Linked DNA regions of Homo sapiens: region 2 is linked to region 1. The links come from fine-mapping of genetic effects on gene expression. A gene starts in region 1. The other region holds a variant in brackets. All regions are shown on one strand. Distances are from middle to middle. Region 1 holds the start of RHOT1 (ras homolog family member T1). Region 2 holds the start of LOC124903979 (a long non-coding RNA gene).

The links. PIP is the estimated chance that this variant, and not a neighbour inherited with it, causes the effect.
Region 2: its variant is fine-mapped to the expression of RHOT1 in whole blood (INTERVAL, PIP above 0.99).

The regions. Positions count from the first base shown.
Region 1 is chr17:32,135,990-32,147,306 of GRCh38, reverse strand. It overlaps RHOT1 (ras homolog family member T1), which reads right to left and starts at 4,805. Exons shown (of 20, transcript NM_001033566.3): 1 at 4,578-4,805. The coding sequence starts at 4,614. LOC105371730 (a long non-coding RNA gene) reads left to right here and starts at 4,172. Exons shown (of 2, transcript NR_136413.1): 1 at 4,172-4,282; 2 at 4,594-6,081. RefSeq lists silencers at 4,525-4,584, 4,615-4,844 and an enhancer at 5,305-5,474.
Region 2 is chr17:32,237,848-32,249,199 of GRCh38, reverse strand. It overlaps LOC124903979 (a long non-coding RNA gene), which reads right to left and starts at 5,716. Exons shown (of 2, transcript XR_007065709.1): 1 at 5,147-5,716. RefSeq lists a silencer at 8,116-8,410. The variant C/T (reference allele first, on the strand shown) is at 5,917.

The DNA of each region.
Region 1 (11,317 bases):
TCAGGAGGCCAAGGTGGGTGGATCATTTGAGGTCAGGAGTTCAAAACCAGCCTGGCCAACATGGTGAAACCCTGTCTCTACTAAAAATACAAAAATTAGCCAGGCGTGGTGGTATGCGCCTGTAATCCCAGTTACTTGGGAGGCTGAGGCAGGAGAATCGCTTGAACCTGAGAGGCTGATGCTGTAACGAGCCGAGATTGTGCCACTGCACTGCAGCCTGGGTGACAGGGTGAGACTCTGCCTCAAAAAAATAAAAAAAGAGCAGGCCAGGCATGGTGGTTCACACCTATAATCCCAGTATTTGGGAGGCCGAGGTGGGTGGATCACTTGAGGTCAGCAGTTCCAGACCAGCCTGGCCAACACAGTGAAACCCTCTCTACTAAAAAAAAAAAAAAAAAAAAAAAAAATTTACAAAAATTAGCCAGACATGGTGGTGCATGCCTGTCATCCCAGCTACTTGGGAGGCTGAGGTTACAGTGAGCCAAGATGGCACCACTGTACTCCAGCCTGGGCGACAGAGCAAGACCCTGTCTCAAAAAAATAATAATAGGCCGGGCGCGGTGGCTCACTCCTGTAATCCCAGCACTTTGGGAGGCCGAGGAAGGCAGATCATGAAGTCAGGAGATCGAGACCATCCTGCCTAACATGGTGAAACCCCATCTCTACTAAAAATACAAAAAAAAAAAAAAAAAAATTAGCCGGGCGTGGTGGTGGGCACCTGTAGTCCCAGCTACTCGGGAGACTGAGGCAGGAGACTGGCCTGAACCTGGGAGGTGGAGCTTGCAGTGAGCCGAGATCGCGCCACTGCACTCCAGCCTGGGCGACAAAGCGAGACTCCATCTCAAAAAAAATAAAATAAAAATAATAATAATAATAATACAGAAAAATGATCAAATTTTTATGACAAAGAGGAGTGGTTTGGAAAACAAGGAAAGTCTAAACAAACTGAACTAGCTTGAACTCATTCATTCTTTTAAGAAATACCTGAGTGCCTCTTTTGTGCCAGGTCTGTTCTAGCCACTGGGGATACAGCAAGAAGGAAGACAAATCCCCTGCCTTCATGATGATTCTTTTCTAGCCCAAGAGACAGGACAAAAAATGTACAAATATACATGGTTATGGGGATAATGCCCAGGTCAGAGCCTTCTTATAGAGAGAGCAATGAAGGAGAGAGTAGCATAAAAGGGAAGTAAGGGCTAGATTGTGGAGGGCCTTACAGGACTGCATTAAAAAGTTTGGACTTTATTCTAAGTGAAAGTAGAAATCACTGGATGATATACATCTATTTTCTGAGACAGATTCTCACCCTGTCAACCAGGCTGGAGTGCAGGGGTGCAGTCATGACCCACAGCAGCCCCGAACTCCTGGGCTCAGGTGATTCTCCCACCTCAGCCTCTCAAGTAGCTGGAACTGCAGGTGCACGCCACTTCACCCAGCTAATTTTTTGTATTTTTTGTAGAGATGAGGGTTCGTCATGTTGCCCAGGCTGGTCTCGAACTCCTGACCTCAAGTGATCCACCTGCCTCGGCCTCCCAAAGTGCTGAGATAATAGGCATGAGCCACCACACCTGGCTCATTAGATGATTTTTAAGGTGCATAGCAGAATCTGAGATATTTTCTAAATATGAATCTGTATATATTCAGGACAGCTTGAATCTATACTTCAGGGTAAAAAAATTAAAAATAAAAAAATAAAAATGAATCTGCCTGCTCCACGGAAAATGGAGGAAAGCAGGAGCAGAAAGACTGGTTAAGGGAGATATTGCAAAAGTCAAGGCCAAAGCCAGTGGAATTTTGAAGTAGTTTGGCAGAGGTTGCCATGATAATCAGAGTTAGACAAACCAGTTAAAGATCTGCCAGATTCATTTTAAAAGAAGATAACAGTTCCATTTTCTTAAGGAACTTAACTAGTAGAAAACAAATATATCTCAATTTAATTTAAAAAGAAGACTCCATTAAAATGAAAACTATCCTGTTTACTATTATCAATATATATATATATTTTTTGAGACAGAGTCTCACTCTGTCCCCCAGGTTGGAATGCAGTGGTGTGATCTCAGCTCACTGCGACCTCCATCTCCTGGGTGAAAGCCATTCTCCTGCCTTAGCCTCCTGAGTAGCTGGGATTACAGGTGCGTGCTGCCACAGCTGACTAATTATTGTATTGTTAGTAGAGACTGGGTTTCGTCATGTTGGTCAGTTTCCTGGTCTCAAACTCCTGACCTCAGGTGATCTGCCCACTTTGGCCTCCCAAAGTGTTGGGGTTACAGGCATGAGCTACTGTGCCCAGCCATTAAAAATTAATTTTTTCTTTAAGAGACAGTCTTGCTCTGTCACCTGGGCTGAAGTGCAGTGGTGTGATCATGGCTCACTGCAACCTCGATTTTCTGGGTTCAAGCAATTCTCTCATCTCAGCCTCCCCAGTAGCTAGGACTACAGGTGCACACCACCATGCCTAGCTAATAGTGTTGTGGTTTTTTTTTTTTGAGGCGGGGTCTCACTATGTTGCCCAGGCTGGTCTCAAACTCCTGCGTTCAAGCAATCCTCCTGCCTCAGCCTCCCAAAGTGCTGGGATTACAGGAGTGAGCCACTGTGCCCAGCCATTAATATTTAAATTTTTTGTAGAGACAGGATCTCACTACATTGCCCAGGTTGGTCTCAAACTCCTTGGCCTCAAGTGATCCTCCTGCCTCAGCCTCCCAGAGTGCTTGGAATACAGGTATAAGCCACCTCACCCAGCTGTGTGGGAGCATTATTAAAGGTTTTTTTTCAGACAGAGTCTTGCTCTGCTGCCCAGGCTGGCATGTCTCAGCTCACTGCAACCTCCTCCTCCAGGGTTCAAGTGATTCTCCTGCTTCAGCCTCCAGAGTAGCTGGGACTACAGGTGTGTGCCACCACACCCGGCTAATTTTCGTATTTTTAGTAGAGACGGGGTTTCACCATGTTGGCCAGGCTCGTCTCGAACTCCTGACCTCAAGTGATCTGCCTGCCTTGGCCTCCCAAAGTGCTGGGATTACAGGCATGAGCCACAGTGCCTGTAATCCCAGGCACTGCACTCCAGCCTCGGTGACAGAGCGAGACTCTGTCTCAAAACAACAACAACAACAAACTATTTCATCATATATTTAAGGATCAGTTTTTTAAGCAAGTCGTCTACTCACTTTCCCTACCTTGCTCCAAAAGCATAAGCATGAATTATATGTTAAATAACACCTTCCTGAACCTTGTCAAGGAAGTCCATGAAAAATACAGATTAAGATATAGTTATAAATAAAAATAAAAATTTACAACTGCAAATCAAAAAGTAAACTATGGCTGGCTAAGCTTACTCCTAAATTCTAATTCTAAAGGAAGATTTCTCCAAACAGCAGGTGGATGAAATTTCAATGAACTCAAAGAACACTACAGAAGAGGGTAAAAACGTGTTAACTTTCTTCCTTGGGATTCCATCACGGTGACCCTGAGGGGTTACCAAGAATGAAATAATGGTTTAAAACAGAATGCTTCGAAACAGCAATGGCAGACTATTAACGAATGTATTAACTCTTTAAAACAAACAATCCAGTTATCCCTGGCCCACTTTCTTATTTTAGTCCTAGCAACTGAGTTACATAACTTGCAGAGTGAAATCAAGAAGTCCCCGCTGTTGCGTCCTCATGTCAGTGAACAGAGGGAACTCTCCTTTATTATATTTTCAAAAGGTGAAATGTATGAAATTTCTGGGTGGGGGGAGATATCAAATGTCTGTGTGCCTGTGGTTATTAATAAGTTAACTACGAAGTAACTATGGAATAAATAATGCTTAAAAAGAGGGCAAAGATTACGCTTTAGGGTAACAACAATTGGACCCTCCCCAGATAATTCTAATTCATTGAGCGCTTGCATAACTCGAAGTTGAGTAAAAATTTTTGATGAAATATCTCGAGTACGAGGAGTTAGTCCAATGCAAAGTACAAGTACTGCTAAAAAGGATCCGGCCCTTTCCACTACTCATATCTTAATGTCAATACATAGAGAGAGTGAAGACTGCGAGTGCCAAAAAAATGCAGAAACCTGACCTTGCCCACAAGTCGAATAGTTCTGCACCCCTCCCCCAGCTTCCCCGGGAGCCGGTTCACGCAATCCCTATTGGTCAGTCTGCTTATTCCAGCACCTGCCTGGCAGTGATAAGGGAATCTCCAGAAGACAAGAAGGTCTGAAAGGAGGCGGCCTGGGAAACTGTGAGGCCCAGAAGGACAGGGTTCGAAGAGGAAAAGGAGGAGAGAAGCTTCGGAGGGATGAGGTCGGGCGGTTAGGGCTAATAGGGACATGGCTTGGGAGGACGGCTGGGGAACAGGGAAAGGAGATCTCTGGAGGGCCCAGGTGAGGTGACAGGGTGAGGGCCGCCGGCGGCCAGCCAAAAGAGAAGAGTGAAGGGGCTGGAAGGCCTAGGAACGCGGAGAAAGGCGAGCGGAGCTGTGAGGCGCGAGAAGGGCCGGGGCTGCAAAGGTTGGGGCTGCAGGGGCGACAGGGGCGACAGGGGCTGCAGGGGCAGGGAGGGCAGGGACTCAGGGGCCGGCCAGAGGGTGCGGACTCACGTTCTCCCACCAGCAGGATCCGCACGTCTTTCTTCATGTCGGCGGCTCTCGGGGGCCGGCCTCCGCCCGCACGCACGGAGTGGACTCCTCTCACCAGGAGCACCCACCCCACGGCGCCACCTGCCAGCCTCTTCGGCCGCCGGGGCCCGCCGCGCCGCCCCCTCAGTTGCTTCCCCGCAAGAGAGCCGGGACAGCGCCAGCTCCGCCTCCTCCGGCCCAGCGGGCTGTGGCGGCGGCGGCGGCGGCGGCGGCGGCGGCGGCGGCGGCGGCGGCGGCGGGGACGACGGCACGCGGCGAGGGACACGCGCTTTCGGAACGCGAACGCGCTCTGCGCCGGAACAGCGCTCCCGCTGTCAGGCCGCCGCAGCGCAGGCCCAGGGAGCCTCGCCCACCCTCCTTTGGGCACCGCGACCCCGGAGACACTTGGGCCAGGAATTTGAATGGCGGATTCCCTGGTTTAACCCCGTTTATTTTATAGATAGGGACAGAAATTCCCTGTTCAAAGTCACATAGCTAGAGCTTGGCAGTGACTCAGAGCAGGGATCTTCTCACCAGACCATAAACTCCGGGAGGGCAGCGATCAGCTTGCATGGTTTTCAGCTGCGTCCCCACGTTATTGGATAGGGCCGTCAGAAAATGCTTGATCGAGTAGGGCGACTGGCTCCCAGGATCCGGCGCTTTCCACTCCCCAAAGCCCGTCACCCTAGTTGCTTTTGCCTCTGATGCTTATAAAATACGATTATAAGATTCGTTTTTACGCTGTGTGAACAAGACTCCTTTCTTTATAACCAAACTAAGTGACTTTTTTTCTGTCTATGTAGTTTATTTTATGGCAGGGTTTTCGGACACTCTTCTTTACTCAGGCTTACCCAGCGTAATGCTAGACACGGAGGTGGCACTCGATAATAAACTCTAGATGATTTTTCTAACATTGCCTTAATTTTCTCGTGACCCTCTCCATCTGGAGGAATTTGTTGTTACATGCTTAATGTTTGGTACACAATGGCAAATATATATATATACATACGCGTGCGAATATATATCACATCCCTAATACTTGGCACACAGTGGGAAATATAAAATACATAAATTAATGAGGAAGCACTATCTGTGCATAATGTACATTTTTTCTATCTTAAATATTACACAATAAACACTTAAAGGGAATGAAATGTGCGTAATACCAACTTCCCTTTCTCCTAGGAGAAGTCATGTGGTCTCTTGCAGCAGTTAAGAGTTGCTGGCAAATTTCCTGGGTTTGAATCTAGGCTCCACATAATAGCTCTGTGATCTCGACTAAGTGCTTTTATTTTTACTTCCCTCAGCCACTGTTCCTTCTTCTGTAGCATGGAAATAATGATGATAATACCTTCCTCTTGAGATGGTTGTGAGTAATAAATACTATAATACTTGTCAAGCATTTGGTACAGTGCCAGACTCAGAGCGTGTGCTCTACTGATCTCAGCTATCATTATTATATTAAAAAGTCACTAAAAAGTTGTAATCCACAGATTTTTTGTTTTGTTTTGGTTTTGTTTTGAGACGGAGTCTCGCTCTGTCGCCCAGGCTGGAGTGCAGTGGCGCAATCTCGGCTCACTGCAAGCTCCGCCTCCTGGGTTCACGCCATTCTCCTGCCTCAGCCTCCCGAGTAGCTGGGACTACAGGCGTCCGCCACCACGCCCGGCTAATTTTTTTTTTTTTTTTTTTGTATTTTTAGTGGAGACGGGGTTTCACCGTGTTAGCCAGGATGGTCTCGATCTCCTGACGTCGTGATCCGCCTGCCTTGGCCTCCCAAAGTGCTGGGATTACAGGCGTGAGCCACCGCGCCCAGCCTAATCCACAGGTTTTGAGGCAAATATGTTGTTGTGTTTACTGCAGAATTTCACCATCTTAGTTATTTGATGTCCATAAGGAGCACAGGGGAGAAAGCCCTTTCAAAAACAACTCTATCCCTGTCCGTGTTAGGAAAAAGAGGGAGATGGGAAAGACATACTCCTTGTTCACTGAGAGATAATGAAGTCGCGTTCCTGGGTAGATGTAAATAAGGTGCTTTCATCTCCCTCCTCCCCCCACACCTCAATGAGTGGAAATGTGAAATTCAGGAGGCTTGGTTACCTGATCTTTCAGGGAAAAGTAGCCCTCAGAATTTTAGTGTTACAAAATGTTTGAGTTGGAAGAACCCTGACAGAGCTCCTATTCCAATCCCGTTACTCTGTAGATAAAAAAAAAAAAGCAAGGCCCACAGAGACGCAATGACCTGGCACAGACGGCATGGCTGAGGCTGAGCTTTGCTCTGCCATTCCTAGTGCATGACTCTAGGCAACTCATGTCACCTAGTTGTGCCTCAGTTTCCTCTCTACCAAGTGAAGGCTGTGATCTCTTATGAAATTGTTTGGAGGAGCTCATAAAATAATGTATTTTATGTGAATAATGTAATGAATTGTAAATCTTTTTCCTAAAAAACAAACAAACAAAAAACAAGTTACACAAATATCAGAGCACAGAGGACAAAAGCCTTTTACAGAGGGGCAAATTCTTTAGGGCACTGCTTGCACCATGCAGCTTTGTGAAGAATCTAGATCCCTAAGAGCTCTCAATCAGCGTTGCCAGTTAATGACAATGTTGACTCATTGGGGCTTCTCCAGGAGGGTGAGCAGTAACAAGGTCTTCGTGGGGTTGTAGATGTGTACTGGGTAATGTCTGGTAGGCAGGGGCTTGGAAAAAGCATTTATTTAGAGGGACATCACAGATACAATATTGCAAAGAACTCCTTTGTAAATAAAACTTACTTAAAAATCCATATCCAGCCAGGTATGGTGGTTCAACACCTATAATCCCAAAGCTTGGGGTAGCTGCGGTGGGAGGATCTCTTGAGGCCAGGAGTGCAAGACCAGCCTGAGAAACATTGAAACCCCATCTCTACAAAAAATAAACAAATTAGCTGGGCGTGGTGGCATGCACCTGTAGTCCCAGTTGGGAGGCTGAGGTGGGAGGATCACTGGAGACCAGGAGTTGGAGGCTGCAGTGAGCTATGATGGCACCATTGCACTCAAGTCTGGGTGACAGAGCCAGAGTCTGTCTCTAAATAAAAAAAAATAAAAATCTGACTAGGCCGGGCACAATAGCTCACACCTGTAATCCTAGCACCTTGGGAGGCCGAGGCGGGTGGATCACTTGAGCTCAGGAGTTTGAGACCAGCCTGGCCAACATGGTGAAACCCTGTCTCTACTAAAAATACAAAAGTTAGCTGGGCGTGGTGGTGCATGCCTGTAATCCCAGCTATTCGGGAGGCTGAGGCAGGAGAATCGCTTGAACCCAGGAGGTGGAGGTTGTAGTGAGCTGAGATCGCACCACTGCACTCGAGCCTGGGTGACAGAGTGAGACTCCATCTAAAAAAAAAAAACCTAACTCAAGAGCTGCAGAAAAGAGGCAATATCAAGCACTTTCAGTGAGCAATGGATATGGTTTGGTACAAACTGAGGCCAGCACTTGCTAAAGTTGGGGAGAGGGAGTCTGGTATGCCAGGGTTTGCCTCCCCTGCAATGTAAGTTTCTTTCTACAGTCCGCAGCCATCTCCTGATCATCTATACTTCTGCCAGTCTGGCTCCCTGACTTGCCTTGAACTTTATTCCCTCCTTATGATGTTAACAAACGTCCACTAGGTGTCACTCTGATGTTCTCCTGGAGACAGCACAGGTCGCTGGTTAAAGCAGGGAAGCTTGGCTGGGGATGAGAGGATTGCTTGAGCCCAGGAGTTCGAGACCTGCCTGAATAACACAAGGAGACCCTGTCTCTACAAAAAATTTTAAAGAATTAAGCCGCCGTGGCTCACGCCTGTAATCCCAACACTTTGGGAGGCCAAGGTGGGCAGATCACCTGAGGCCAGGAGTTTGAGACCAGCCTGGCCAACATGGCAAAATCCTGTCTTCACTAAAAATACAAAACTTAGCCGGGTGTGGTGGCAGGCGCCTGTAATCCCAGCTATTTGTGAGGCTGAAGCATGAGAATCTCTTGAACGCGGGAGGCGGAGGTTTCAGTGAGCCGAGATCGCATCACTGCACTCCAGCCTGGGGGATTAAGCGAGACTCTGTCTCCAAAAAAAAGAAAACAAAAAAAATTAAAGAATTAATTGGACGTGGTGGTGCACACCTGTAGTCCCAGCTACGTGGGAAGATTGCTTGAGCCTAGGAGGTTGAGGCTGCAGTGAGCTGTGATTGTACCACTGCACTCCAGTCTGGGCCACAGAGTAAGACCCCGTCTCTTAAACAACAACAACAACAAAGACTAAGGATGCTGGAGTCTGCCTGCTAGATCTGAACATCAGTTGTGCCAATTACTAGCTGTGCATCACTGGACAGATTATTTAACTTCTCTTTGCCTCATCTGCCAAATGGGAATAACAATAGGACATACCTCATGAGATTGTTATGAAAATTAAATTAGTTAATATAATAGGAAAGGCTGGGCACAGTGGCTCACGCCTGTAATCCCAGCACTTGGGAGGATGAGGTGGGTGGATCCCTGAGGTCAGGAGTTCGAGACCACCCTGACCAACATGGTGAAACCCTATCTCTACTAAAAATACAAAAATTAGCCAGGCATGGTGGTGGGCACCTGTAATCCCAGCTACTTGGGAGGCTGAGGCACGAGAATCACTTCAACCTGGGAGGTGGAGGTTGCAGTGAGCTGAGATCATGCCACTGCACTCCAGCCTGGGCAACACAGAAATACTCCATCTCAAAAAAAAAAAAAAAAAGATTCATTAGCCGGGCATAATGGCATGCACCTATAGTCCCAGCTACCTGGGAGGCTGAGGTGGGCGATCACTTGAGCCTAGGAGGTCAAAGCTGCAGTGAGCTGTGATTGTGCCACTACACTCCAGACTGGGTGACAGAGCAAGAACTTGTCTCAAAAAAAAATACATATATATGTATATATATATATTTTATGTATATACATATATTTTTATGTATATACATATACATATACGTGTATATGTATATACATGTATACATATATACACGTATACATGTATACGTGTATATATATATATATATATATATATATATATATATATATATATATTAGGAAAACACTTAGAATTGTGCCTGGCGTGTGGTCAGTGATATATAAATGTTGGAAGAGGGAGATAGGAAAGACACACTCCTTGTTCATTGGCAGATAATGAAGAAATATTCCAGGGAGGATGCGAATAAGGAGGTTTAGTCTCCCCCTTCCCACCCACACATCAAATAAAATAAATTATAAGGGAAGTGGCTTCTGTACACCTCTCTGAGCTTGAGGACAGAGCTTCATGATGACACATACTGCAGCAAATCATAAGCCAAAGAACAGAGTTGTTGGCAGTGAATTTACTGTTGGGATATTACAGATTGAATACAATGTATTAAATAGATTGGATAAGGCCAAGAGGACAGATTGGTATCTAGAAGGCACTGATGGAATTTTCCTCTAGAATGCCAGGAAGGAGCTCTACCCTCACAATACAGGCTTCATGCCTCCTCAACTGTGCAGGGGAGGAGGTCAGGGCAAAGTGCTTTCGCCAGGAGATAAGAGGATCCATCTTTATGCCTAGTGACACAGCCTCTCTCTGAGTTCCAGAACAGCAGAACACCCAGGGCAAATGGGCAGGCCTGCTGGGTAGAAGATAAAGTGTGTGTTAAATGACTGACATTGGGTGGGAACAGGGGCCCCATCTCTGATTGGTGAGTTAGACAGAGTCTCTCACCAATCTCTGATTGGTGAGTTAGACAGAGTCTCTCACCAATCTCTGATTGGTGAGTCCTGGGCAGGAAACCAAATAAGACTTGGCTTGGCATCAGTCCCATGCTTCAGACCCACCTATCTTTGGTCTTTCAAGTTAAACCCAAAGCAGCATCCATCATCTGTGTTTTCTTCACTTTTGTGTCCCATTCCTTCCAGGATGCCTTCCTCCTTTTCCTGCCAGGCCCACTCTGGTGGAGTGGAAAAGTCCAATGCTTTGATACCAGGTAAATGCTGTATTTTATCTTGCCTTTCAACACACTCGTTATTGGTTCATTGTTCAAACATCCATGTCTTTGGCATAGTCAGTCACAAGGGTCCATCTCTAGAGGACATGGATTCTGCCTGTTTGCTTGATTTCGCTTGAAGGTACATCACTCAGCACAATTACTTATTAAAAGGCATTTGATTATAACTGTCAGTGTTGAAAGTATATTTCCAGACAAGAGCTTCATCTGTTAATGAGGTTGCATCCAGTCTTCTTTTTAATTTTCTTGAGCTCCTTTCAGATAAATTGGAAAACAAATACCCTCAATTAAGACATAATTGATATTGAGAAGCCTACCTCCAAATGGCCTGAATGTCTATGGAGTGATTAAGAGCATGGGCTCTGGAGTCTACAGTTTATCTCCAACACTTTGCTAGCTGTGTAACACTGACTAGCAATGTTGGGCAAGTGACTGACCTTTCTGAAAAATATAAACCTCATCTGCAAAATGGAGCTATTTCATAGGACACTTCTGAGGATTAAATAAAATGATGCAGGTAAAGCATTTGTCACATTGCTTAAACATGCTCACATATCACCCTTAACAGCTACATTTTAAATTAGGAATTCTTTTGCTGACTTACATCATCTTCCCAAGGGCAAATTGATTAGCCTACCTACTGTGGGTGGCAAGCCACCCAGGTGCCGAGGCAAGAGACCAAGGACACGAGCTGTTCCAGTATAATAA
Region 2 (11,352 bases), 100 kb before region 1:
ACTCAGCCCTGTGTCTCTTCACCATTAAGATATCTGATAGAGGAAGACAATCCAGCAAAGAAGCCCGGAAAATAGTGGCCAGTGAGGCAGAAAGAAAACCAGGAGATTGTGGAGGCCAGAAGCAGACAGTGTTCCGAGGAGAAAGGAAATGTGTCAGATGCTGTTGCTGAGGGTAAGATAATGGCTGAGATCAGATGCTGTTGCTGAGGGTAAGACGATGGCTGAGATCAGATGCTCTTGCTGAGTGGTAAGACGATGGCTGAGAACTGATTGTTGAATTTGGCAATGTGGAGGACATTGGAGACCTTTACAAGAGCAGTTTCGGTATGGTAGGGGAGGTAACAAGCTGGGAGGAGTGGCTCAAGACAGAATAGGAACATCAATCTCTTCAAAAATTCTTCCAAAAAATAGAAAAGGGGAGAACACTTCCCAACTCATTCTGTGAGGCCAGTATTACCATGAAAAGTGTTACTTGGGGCCGGGCACGGTGGCTCACACCTGTAATCCCAGCATCTTGGGAGGCCGAGGCAGGTGGATCACGAGGTCAGGAGATGGAGACCATCCTGGCTAACACAGTGAAACGCTGTCTCTACTAAAAATACGAAAAATTAGCCGGGTGTGGTGGCAGGCGCCTGTAGTCCCAGCTACTCAGGAGGCTGAGGCAGGAGAATGGTGTGAACCAGGGAGGTGGAGCTTGCAGTGAGCCAAGATCACGCCACTGCACTCCAGCCTGGGAGATAGAGTGAGACTCCATCTCAGAAAAAAAAAGAAAAGTGTTACTTGGATAACAAAACTAGACAGAGACATCACAAGAAAACTACACCGGCCGGGCGCGGTGGCTCACGCCTGTAATCCCAGCACTTTGGGAGGCCGAGGCGGGCGGATCACGAGGTCAGGAGATCGAGACCATCCTGGCTAACACGGTGAAACCCCGTCTCTACTAAAAATACAAAAAATTAGCCGGGCGCAGTGGCGGGCGCCTGTAGTCCCAGCTACTTGGGAGGCTGAGGCAGGAGAATGGCGTGAACCCGGAAGGCGGAGCTTGCAGTGAGCGGAGATCGCGCCACAGCACTCCCGCCTGGGCGACAGAACGAGACTCCGTCTCAAAAAAAAAAAAAAAAAAAAAAAGAAAACTACACAATGATACACCTTATGCTATAGATGCAAACATCCTCAACAAAATACAAGCAAACTGAATCTAACAATATATAAAAAGGAGTATATACCATGACCAAATGGGATTTTCCCAGAAATGCAAGATTGGTTCATCATACAAAAATCAATGTAATACACACACTGTATGAATGGAATAAAGGACAAAAAACAAATGATCATTTCAGTAAATGAAAAAAAGCACTTGATAAAATCCAATGTTGCTTCATTATAAATAAAACACTCAACAAACTAGGAAGAGAATTGGTTTAATCTGATAAAAGACATCTATGAAAGACCCACAGCTCAGCCTGGGCAACATGGTGAAACCCTGTCTACTAAAAAATACAAACATTAGCCGGAGGCTGCGTGCGGTGGCTCACCCCTATAATCCCAGCACTTTGGGAGGCCGAGGCGGGCGGATCGCTTGAGGTCAGGAGTTCAAGACCAGCCTGGCCAACATAGCAAAACCCTGTCTCTACTAAAAATACAAAAATTAGCTGGGCATGGTGGCACGTGCCTGTAATCCCAGCTATTTGGGAGGCTGAGACAAGAGAATTGCTTGAACCCGGGAGGGGGAGGTTGCAGTGAGCCGAGATTGCACCACTGTACTGTAGCCTGGATGACACAGCAAGACTTCGTCTCCGAAAAGAAAAAAAAAAAAAAAAACAGAATTAGCCGGGCGTGGTGGTGTGTGCCTGTGATCCCAGACACTTGGGGGCTGGGAGGCTTGCTTGAGCCCAGGAGGAGGAGGTTGCAGTAAACGAAGATCACACCACTGCACTCCAGGCTGGATGACAGAGCAAGACCCTGTCTCAAAAAAAAAAGAGAGAGAGAGAAAAGCCACAGCTAACCGACAACTTACTACTGAAAAGGCTGAATGTTTTCCCCCTAAGATCAAGAACAGAACAAGGATGTCTGCTCTTGTCGTTTGTACTTAACATTGTACTGGGGGGTCTAGGCCGGGCAATTAAAAAAGAAAAATAAATAAAAGACATATACTTTGGAAAGGAAGGAATAAATCTATCTCTAATTGCAGATGACATGATCTTATGTATAGAAAATCCGAGGCCTGGTGTGGTGGCTCACGCCTAATCCCAGCACTTTGGGAGACCAAGGAGGGAGGATCGCTTGAGCCCAGGAGTTGGAGATCAGCCTGGGCAACATGGCAAGACTGTGTTTCCGCCAAAAAAAAAAAAACAAAAAAAAAAAAAAAAAAGGAAAAGAAAGAAAGACTAGCCGGGCACAGTGGTTCACACCTGTAATCCTGGCACTTTGGGAGGCTGAGGCGGGCTGATCACCTGAGGTCGGGAGTTCAAGACCAGCCTGACCAACATGGAGAAACCCTGTCTCTACTAAAAATACAAAAAAACTTAGCCAGGCATGGTGGCACATGCCTGTAATCCCAGCTACTTGGGAGGCTGAGGCAGGAGAATCGCTTGAACCTGGGAGGTGGAGGTTGCGATGAGCCGAGATTGCACCATTGCACTCCAGCCTGGGTAACAAGAGCAAAACTGCAAAAAAGAAAGAAAGAAAGAAAGAATAAAAAAGCTGGGTGTGGTGGCCTGTGCCTGTGGTCCCAGTTACTGGGGAGGCTGAACTGGAAGGATCGTGTGAGCCTGGGAGGCAGAGGTTGCAGTGAGCCGAGATCATGCCACTGTACTGCAGCCTGGGCAACAGAGTGAAACCCTGTCATAAAAAAAGAAAAGAAAATTGAAAACATATGCCCATACAAAAACTTGTATATGAATGTTTGTAGCAGCATTATTGATAATAATGAAAAGGCGGAAACAACCCAAAATATCCATAATTTTTTTTTTTTTGAGACAGAGTCTTGTTCTGTTGCCCAGGTGATCTCGGCTCACTGCAACCTCCACCTCCTGGGTCCAAGTGATTCTCATGCCTCAGCTTCCCCAGTAGCTAGAATCACAAGCATGCACCACCACACCTGGCTAATTTTGTATTTTTAGTAGAGACAGGGTTTTGCCATGTTGGCCAGGCTGGTCTCGAACTCCAGCCCCAAGTGATCCGCCTGCCTTGGCCTCCCAAAGTGCTGGGATTACAGGCGTGAGTCACCGTGCGGCCCAAATATCCATAAATTGATGAACGATAAACAAAATGTGATATTTCCATACAATGAAACATTACTCATCCATGAAAAGGAATGGAATGCTGATACATGCTGATACAAGGTTCATACAGATGAACCTTGAAAACGTTATGCAATCTGAAAGGAGCTAGTCACAAAGATCCACATATTGTATGATTCCATTGATATAAAATATTTAGAAGAGGCAAATCCGTAGAGACAGAAAGTAGATTAGTGATTACCAGGGGTTCGGAGAAAGGAGGATTGGGGAGTGACTGCTAATGGGTACAGAGTTTCTTTCGGGAGTGATGAAATGAGATAGTGGTGACGGTTGCACAAGTTTGTGACTGTACTAAAAACCACTGAATTGTACATGCTAAAAAGGTGAATTTTATGGAGTGTGAGCTATATCTCAGGTTCTGAAAAGAGACAGAATAGGAGACACTGAGGAAACTCTTTCAAGCAAGCTATAAAGGGAACAGAGAAATGCGGACGAAGAGATTTTTTTTTTCAGATGGGAGAAGTAATGTTTGTTTGTTTGTTTGTTAATAAATCCAGAGGAACACAAATCAAAGATCCAAGAAAGGCAGGGGGAATTGCTGGAGGATGCAGACGACAGAGGCCAGACTCTAATGCGTAAGTGAAGGAGCTGCCTGTGGACAGTTTCTCTGTAGTCACAGAAGGGAAAATATAGCAGATATGTGCAAGTCCAGGTAGGTGGGCATGCACGGGATGAGAACTGGACGAGATTCTCTTCCAAGTGCTCTCCTTCAGAGAGCTTGGTCTGTTTTCCTTCAACATCTTGCTTATAGCCTCCTGTCTCAAAACATGCCTGCCAAGAAAGTACACTTGCTTCCAAGAAAACAAGCAAGAAAGCAAGCAAACCAATCCCCTAAAATCATCTACCCTGATAGTTTTATTCTTTTCTTTTCCTCAAGACAGGGTCTTGCTCTGTCACCCAGGCACAATCATAGCTCACTGCTGGCCCCAATAGCTTTAAAAAGTGAATTCCAACCAGGTGCACAATGGCTTATGCCTGTAATCCCAGCACTTTGGGAGGCTGAGGCAGGAGGACTGCTTTAACTCAGGAATTTGAGCCTGGGCAATCTAGCAAGACCTCACCTCTTCTAAAAATTTTTTAAAATTCGTCAGGTGTGGTGGCATGTGCCTGTAGTCCCAGCTTCTTGGGAGGCTGAGGTGGGAGGAGTGCTTGAGCCTGAGAGGGCGAGGCTGCAGTGAACTATGATCGTGTCACTGTACTCCCTGCTGGGCAAGAGTGAAACCCCACCTCAAAAAAAAAAAAATTCCATCTCAAACTGGTCATTCTAAGTTCTTTCAACAATGTTATTTATTTCTATGTTATTTTAATCTATTTTTGAAATTAAATTTTATTATCAAAGAGTAATACTTGCTCAAATAAAATCCAAAAGGTACAGAAAACAAATCTCTCTCCCACCTGTCCCCAGCCCTCCTCCTTGAGGCCAGTTTATTGTATGTCCTCTGAGAGGTAGTCTATGCATAACTGCATATTTATCCCTCCTCCCTTTTTTATTAATTAATTAATTAATTTATTTATTTTTGAGACAGAGTCTCGCTCTGTTGCCCAGGCCGGAGTGCAGTGTTGCGATCTTGGCTCACCGCAAGCTCCACCTCCCGGGTTCAGGCCATTCTCCTGCCTCAGCCTCCCAAGTAGCTGGGACTACAGGTGCCCGCCACCACATCTGGCTAATTTTTTGTGTTTCTTTAGTAGAGACGGGGTTTCACTGTGTGAGTCAGGATGGTCTCAATCTCCTGACCTTGTGATCCACCCGCCTTGGCCTCCCAAAGTGCTGGGATTACAGGCGTGAGCCACCGCGCCTGGCTCCCTCCTCCCTTTTTAAAACTGCAAATAGTATCCAGACTTACCTAGCGTTCTGCATCATGCTGTTGTCACTGAAGATACATCTTGGAGATTGCTTCATATCAGTACATACAGCACTGACACATTAGTTTTCATAACTGCCATGACATCATAGTCCTAAAACATGTTCACAGAGTCCTTGATACTTCTCCTTTCAAGAGGTGGCTCGATTCCCCTCCCCAAACATGTGTGCTGGACTTAGTGACATGCTTCTATAGAACAGAATATGGCAGAAGCAATGATGTGTGCCCTCTGAGACTAGGTCAAACAAGACAGTGCAGCTTCCTCCTGTTTTCTATGTCTTGGGTCACTTGCTCCAGGGTCAGCCAACTGCCATGTCATTCAAGCAGCGCTGTGAAGAGAGGCCCATGTGGTGAGGAGCTGAGGCCTCCTGCCAATGGCTAATGTGCTATCTTGGAAAGGGATCTCCCAGCCCCAGTCAAGCCTTCAGGTGACTGCAGCCCTGGTTGACAGTCTGAATACAATCTAATTAGTGACCTGGAGCCAGAATCACCCAGCTAAATTGCTCCCAAATTCCTGACCCACAGAGACTGTGAGATAACATGTTTATTTTAAGCTGCCAAGTTTTGGAATAATTTGTCATGCAGCTATATATATGATATATGATATATATGATATATGATATATCATATATCATATATGATATATCATATATTATATATTATATATATAATTTTTATATAATATATATCATAATATTATATATATTATATATATAAAATATATTTTTTTGAGATAGGGTCTTGCTGTGTCA[C/T]TCAGGCTAGAGAGCAGTGGCACAATCTCAACTCACTGCAACCTCTGCTTCCTCAGCTCATGAGATCCTCTCACCTCAGCCCCCTGAGTAGCTGGGACTACAGGCGTGCAGTCCCATACCCGGCTAATTTTTTAACTTTTTGTAGAGATGGATAGAGACCATGTTGCTCAGGCTGGTCTCGAACTCCTGGGCTCAAGTGATCCACCCGCTTTGGCCTCCCAAAGTGCTGGGATTCCAGGTGTGAGCCACCACACCCCGCCAGCAATAGATAATTAAGATGCATGTTTAAGATAAATGTGTCCTATCTCCTCCATCATCCCATTTCAATAGGAAAAGCCCTTGGCCAGCCATAAAGCGTGTCATGAACATGAGGTACAACGCTTCCTATCCCATTTTCTCTCCCCAGCTTTCTGATGGCAACCAGCGCATACCTCTGAGTTTGTTCAAACCTGTTGCTCTCCAGTAACACAGTGTGGTCTGTGGGTCTTTGAGCCAAGTCTGTGCTGGCCCATCTCATATGCTCCCAGTTGATGACTTCCCCCAGAGATGTTGGTGTTTTCATCAGTACTTCCACCAGCAATTCTCTGGGTCGGTGTCAGAACCATGTAATAATAAGTTTTTGAAATGTTCAGGAAGTGAAGTCAGCTAAGAAACAAATTTGGCTTTATGAGCCCTTTCCCATCTCCACTGATCTGGGCAGGCCTCCCTGCAGTGTGGAGAGGACCTGTCAACTATATCCTGAGAATAAAGATTTCTTTTTTTAAAAAAAAATCTCATCTTTTCCCTGGAGTGGAAAGGCAGCTAATAGCATTCAGATATTTTGAGATGAAACTGTTACCATGGGAATGTTTCCATATCTCTCCCTTAATAATGATGGGTAGAAACAATGAACAGTACAGCTCTTAGAATTCTAGAGATAAAGGAAATAAGGGGGGAAAAATGAGAGCTGGAAAAACAGATCCCCCTAAAGGACTGCTTATCTCACTCAGAACTCTGCTCTGGTGCTCTCTAGGTGAATGTGGGGAGTTTGTAGGTCAGCGGTTTTTCTCCAAGGGTCAGGGTTCCCATATAGGAAGGAGATCAGTGATCCTGAGGTGGGTGGGGTGTGATTCTTCAGTAATTGCTGGTAAGGGGGTGAAGCTGGTCTGTCCTTCTGAGGCTCTGTGTGCAGGGTAGGGAGTGGAGGAGGAAAACTGAAGAGCTAACAAATTCAGATGCTTCTAAATACTTCTCCGTCTTTGTCCTGGCAAGAGGTCAAAGCACTTGAGGAACTCCTCCTCCCTAGGGCCTCAGACTGTACCCTGAAAGTAGAAGCATGCTGGCACACATTTTCATCTTGTAGTTCCAGAATTTCCTGTGCTGGACTGTCCTCTACAAGGGCTCAGGGATAATTTCTTAACCAGGAAGGCATCTCCTCCTCCATCCACTGTTTGAAGCACTGTAGGGGTCCCCTCAGGTCATTGTCAGCTGAGCTCCTGTTTCTCTAGGGCTTTGAGAAATCAAAGGACAAATGACTTGTTAATGAGCAAAATAATTTATCTCCTGTGACAGGCATTTTACCTTGTCTGCCATAGCCTCATACTCTCTCTCGGAAGGATTTATTTGCCTTTGTTGTTTTTACTTTTTGAGAAGGGTCATCCAAATAGAGCCATCCTGCCTATAAAATGAATGGGAATCCAACCCATTAGCTGAGAATTTAAGAACTCGTGTTGAATGTGTCAGGATAGGCAGATTGGGTATCCCCTTATTGTAAGCACCCCTTAAATCTCTCAAAGATGAAAGAAATGGATACCATCCCACCAAGCACCCCTGCACACTGTGAACTCACCTAAGGTGAGAACTGCCTGCTCACCGAAATCTTTATCTGTCAATTCCCCGCCTCCACCCCTGACCTAAGTTTGCTTGGAATGTCAGCATCTAGGGATTTCTTTTTGTTCTTGAGATCTTTAGTTAAAATACAACATAAGCAGCACTTGAACTGTTTCTTGGTGGTAGCAGCTGAAAGCTAATCTTTATAGGAATGTAGCTTAAGGAGCAGAAACCGTATTGGGTTGGGTGAACAACTAGAGAACTAAGTGTCTTCTTTCTCTGAAGCATCTACTGAAGCAATACATATGGTTGTCCCTGTCTCTCACACCCTCCGGAACCCGCATTTTCTGTTCTAAAATTTGTGATCCACAAAGAGAAAAGCAGTTTAAACATTTGATCTAGCATAAATATAAGCTCAGCAGAGGGAGCGCGGCAAGAGGTTCTAAACATAGGTGGCTCCACAGCACAGAGAAACCAGCCAGGAGACACCCAGGCAAGCGTCCTTGGCTGACTTCCCAGGTCCCTTGGCTTTGGGCTTTCCATGGTCCTGACCACATAAGGAAGGCTCTCTCTGCCAGTGACAGGCATCTCCCAATTCTTTCTCGCTGACTGCTGCGCTAGTAGGTCCTCTTCATTTGGGCTTGGGAGGTCATTTTTGGCAAACAGTAACTCTCACTCCCAAAACGTGGATCCTAAAATGTGGAAGAATCCTGATGACAATGTAAGATGCTACAGCTGCACCTGGCTGGTGGCAGAGTTATAATCTGGTACATGTTTCAGCTGCCACTTACACATAACAGGTGAGCACAGCGTTCATGCTGCTTGAAATGAACACCTATTCTGTTCCAAGCACATTATTACACAGCATATTTTTTCAAATTCAGCTGTACTTTGACAGTTTTTATAGAAAGTATGTGTCTCAATTTTTACATACCAAACTGGAGGAAATTTATCCAGTGAAGTGATTACTGATCTCCAGCCCCAGAAGCGTGAGGCACACAGGTACCTGAATTCTTTCAGGCCAAATGAAACTAACTAAATATTCTTTATGTATGAATTGTTATGGGGCAAGGTGAACACCACCTCCTCCATAAAAGCTTTCTGGGAGCTCCTCAACAGCAGAAAATCTCCCCTCTGCTTGAATTCCCATTGCATTTGTTTTTTTTTTTTTTTTTTTTTGAGATGGAGTCTCGCTCTTTCGCCCAGGCTGTAGAGCAATGGCGCGATCTCGACTCACTGCAACCTCCACCTCCCAGGTTCAAGCGATTCTCCTGCCTCCTCAGCCTCCCGAGTAGCTGGGATTACAGGCATCTGCCATCATGCCCGGCTAATTTTTGTATTTTTGTCGAGATGGGGTTTCACCATGTTGGCCAGGCTGGTCTTGAACTCCAGACCTCAGGTGATCCACCTGCCTCGGCCTCCAAAGGTGCAGGGATTACAGGCGTGAGCCACCGCGCCTGGCCTGCACTTGATTTTATCTCTTATAGGTCTTATTTTTCTACCTATAGTAGATGCTTATTTACATATTACCTCTCCCTATTGTATTGGAAGATCTTTGAATCAGGCATCTCCCCCATAACTATTTCATCTCTATTTCTCACCACATACAGCCCAGCACTTTATACAAAGGAGGCTCCAAGTACATGTTTCTGAAGGAAAGAATGACCAAGCAGAACAGAATCCCTTGTGATAAACTAAGTGTAGCAGTAGAAGAGAGATCACTGAGCCCTGGCCAAGAGGCCTAGTTGACCAGACGACTTGAAGAAAGGCTCAGACCCCAAGTCTGAGGCCTGTGACCCCTGGCTCTGAATTGTGCAAGTCCCTGACATTGTGTCATTGATTTTGTGGACGCACTTCCCCACAGCTCAGTTGTTGGAGCCAGCTCTGCAGGAAATATTTTGGTTGTCCTTTAGCTTTATTTCCTCACTCAGTCCAATAAGCTGCACTGACTTTCATAGAGTTTTAAGGCAAATGGCTTAAAGTTCATTTATTTGTCCATTTACTCATTGATTCAAAACATATTTACTGAGCATCGACTATGTACCAAGTATTGTTCTAGGCCCTGAATATAAAGTGGTGATTAAGACAGTCATAGACCTACTCTTTTTTTTATTTTCATTTTTTATTTTTTGAGATGGAGTTTTGCTCTTATTGCCCAGGCCAGAGCGCAACGGCACGATCTCGGCTCACCATAACCTCCGCCTCCAGGTTCAAGCAATTCTCCTGCCTCAGCCTCCCGAGTAGCTGGGATTACAGGCATGCACCACCATGCCTGGCTAATTTTGTATTTTTATTAGAGACGGGGTTTCTCCATGTTGGTCAGGCTTGTCTCGAACTCCTGACCTTAGGTGATCCACCCACCTCAGCCTCCCAAAGTGCTGGGATTACAGGCGTGAGCCACCACGCCCGGCCCAAAGCCCTACTCTTATAAAGCCTACATTGAAGCAGGAGGGAGACCCTCAACAAATGAAGGAGCACACATGGAAAAGGAAGGAAGGGAGGGAGAGAGGGAACGAGAGAAGGAGGGAGGGAGGATGGAAGGGAGGGAGGGAGGAAGGAAGGGAGTAAGGGAGGGAGAGAGGATGGGAGGGAGGGAGGGAGAGGGAAAGAGAGAGGGAGGGAGGGAGAGAGGGAACGAGAGAGGGAGGGAGGATGGAAGGGAGGGAGGGAGGGAATGAGAGAGGGAGGGAGGGAGGATGGAAGGGAGGTAACGAGATAGGATGAAAGGGAGGGAGGGAGGGAGGATGGCTGGTGGTGAGATGCTGACAATCAAGGTGATGTCAGATAGAGTTTTTGTTTGTTTGTTTTGAGACAGAGTCTCGCTTTGTCGCCCAGGCTGGAGTAGGTGGTGTGATCTCAGCTCACTGCAACCTCTGCCGCCTGGGTTCAAGTGATTCTCCTGCTTCAGCCTCCCGAGTGGCTGGGATTACAGGCACCCGCCACCATGCCCAGCTAATTTTTGTATTTTTAGTAGAGACAGGGTTTCACCATGTTGGTCAGGCTGGTCTCGAACTCCTGGCCTCAAGTGATCCACCTACCTCAGCCTCCCAAAGTGCTGGGATTACAGGTGTGAACCACCACACTCGACTGTCACATTGAGTTTCCAGATGGTTTCTTTACACAATCTGGAAAGGCTCCACTTTGAGGAGGTAACATTTAAACTGAGATTAAGTGACAAGCATGAGGCAGCTTTTTAAAAAAAGAGGGAAGAGTGTTTCAAGCAGAGAATAGCCAGTGCAAAGGCTCTGAAGGAAGCAGGCAATAGGTCTGGAAACAGTGAGTTCAGAGAAGCAGGCAAGGAACAGCGCAGTCCGGTTTTAAAAAGCAGGACAAGGGCAAGGCGTGGTGGCTCACACCTGCAATCCCAGCACTTTGGGAGGCCGAGGCGGGCAGATCACAAGGTCAGGAGATCGAGACCATTCTGGCTAATGTGGTGAAACCCCGTCTCTACTAAAAATACAAAAAATTAGCCGGGCATGGTGGTGGGCACCTGTAGTCCTAGCTACTCGGGAGGCTGAGGCAGGAGAATGGCGTGAACCTGGGAGGTGGAGCTTGCAGTGAGCCGAGATCGCACTACTGCACTCCAGCCTGGGCGACAGAGCGAGACTCCGTCTCAAAAATAAATAA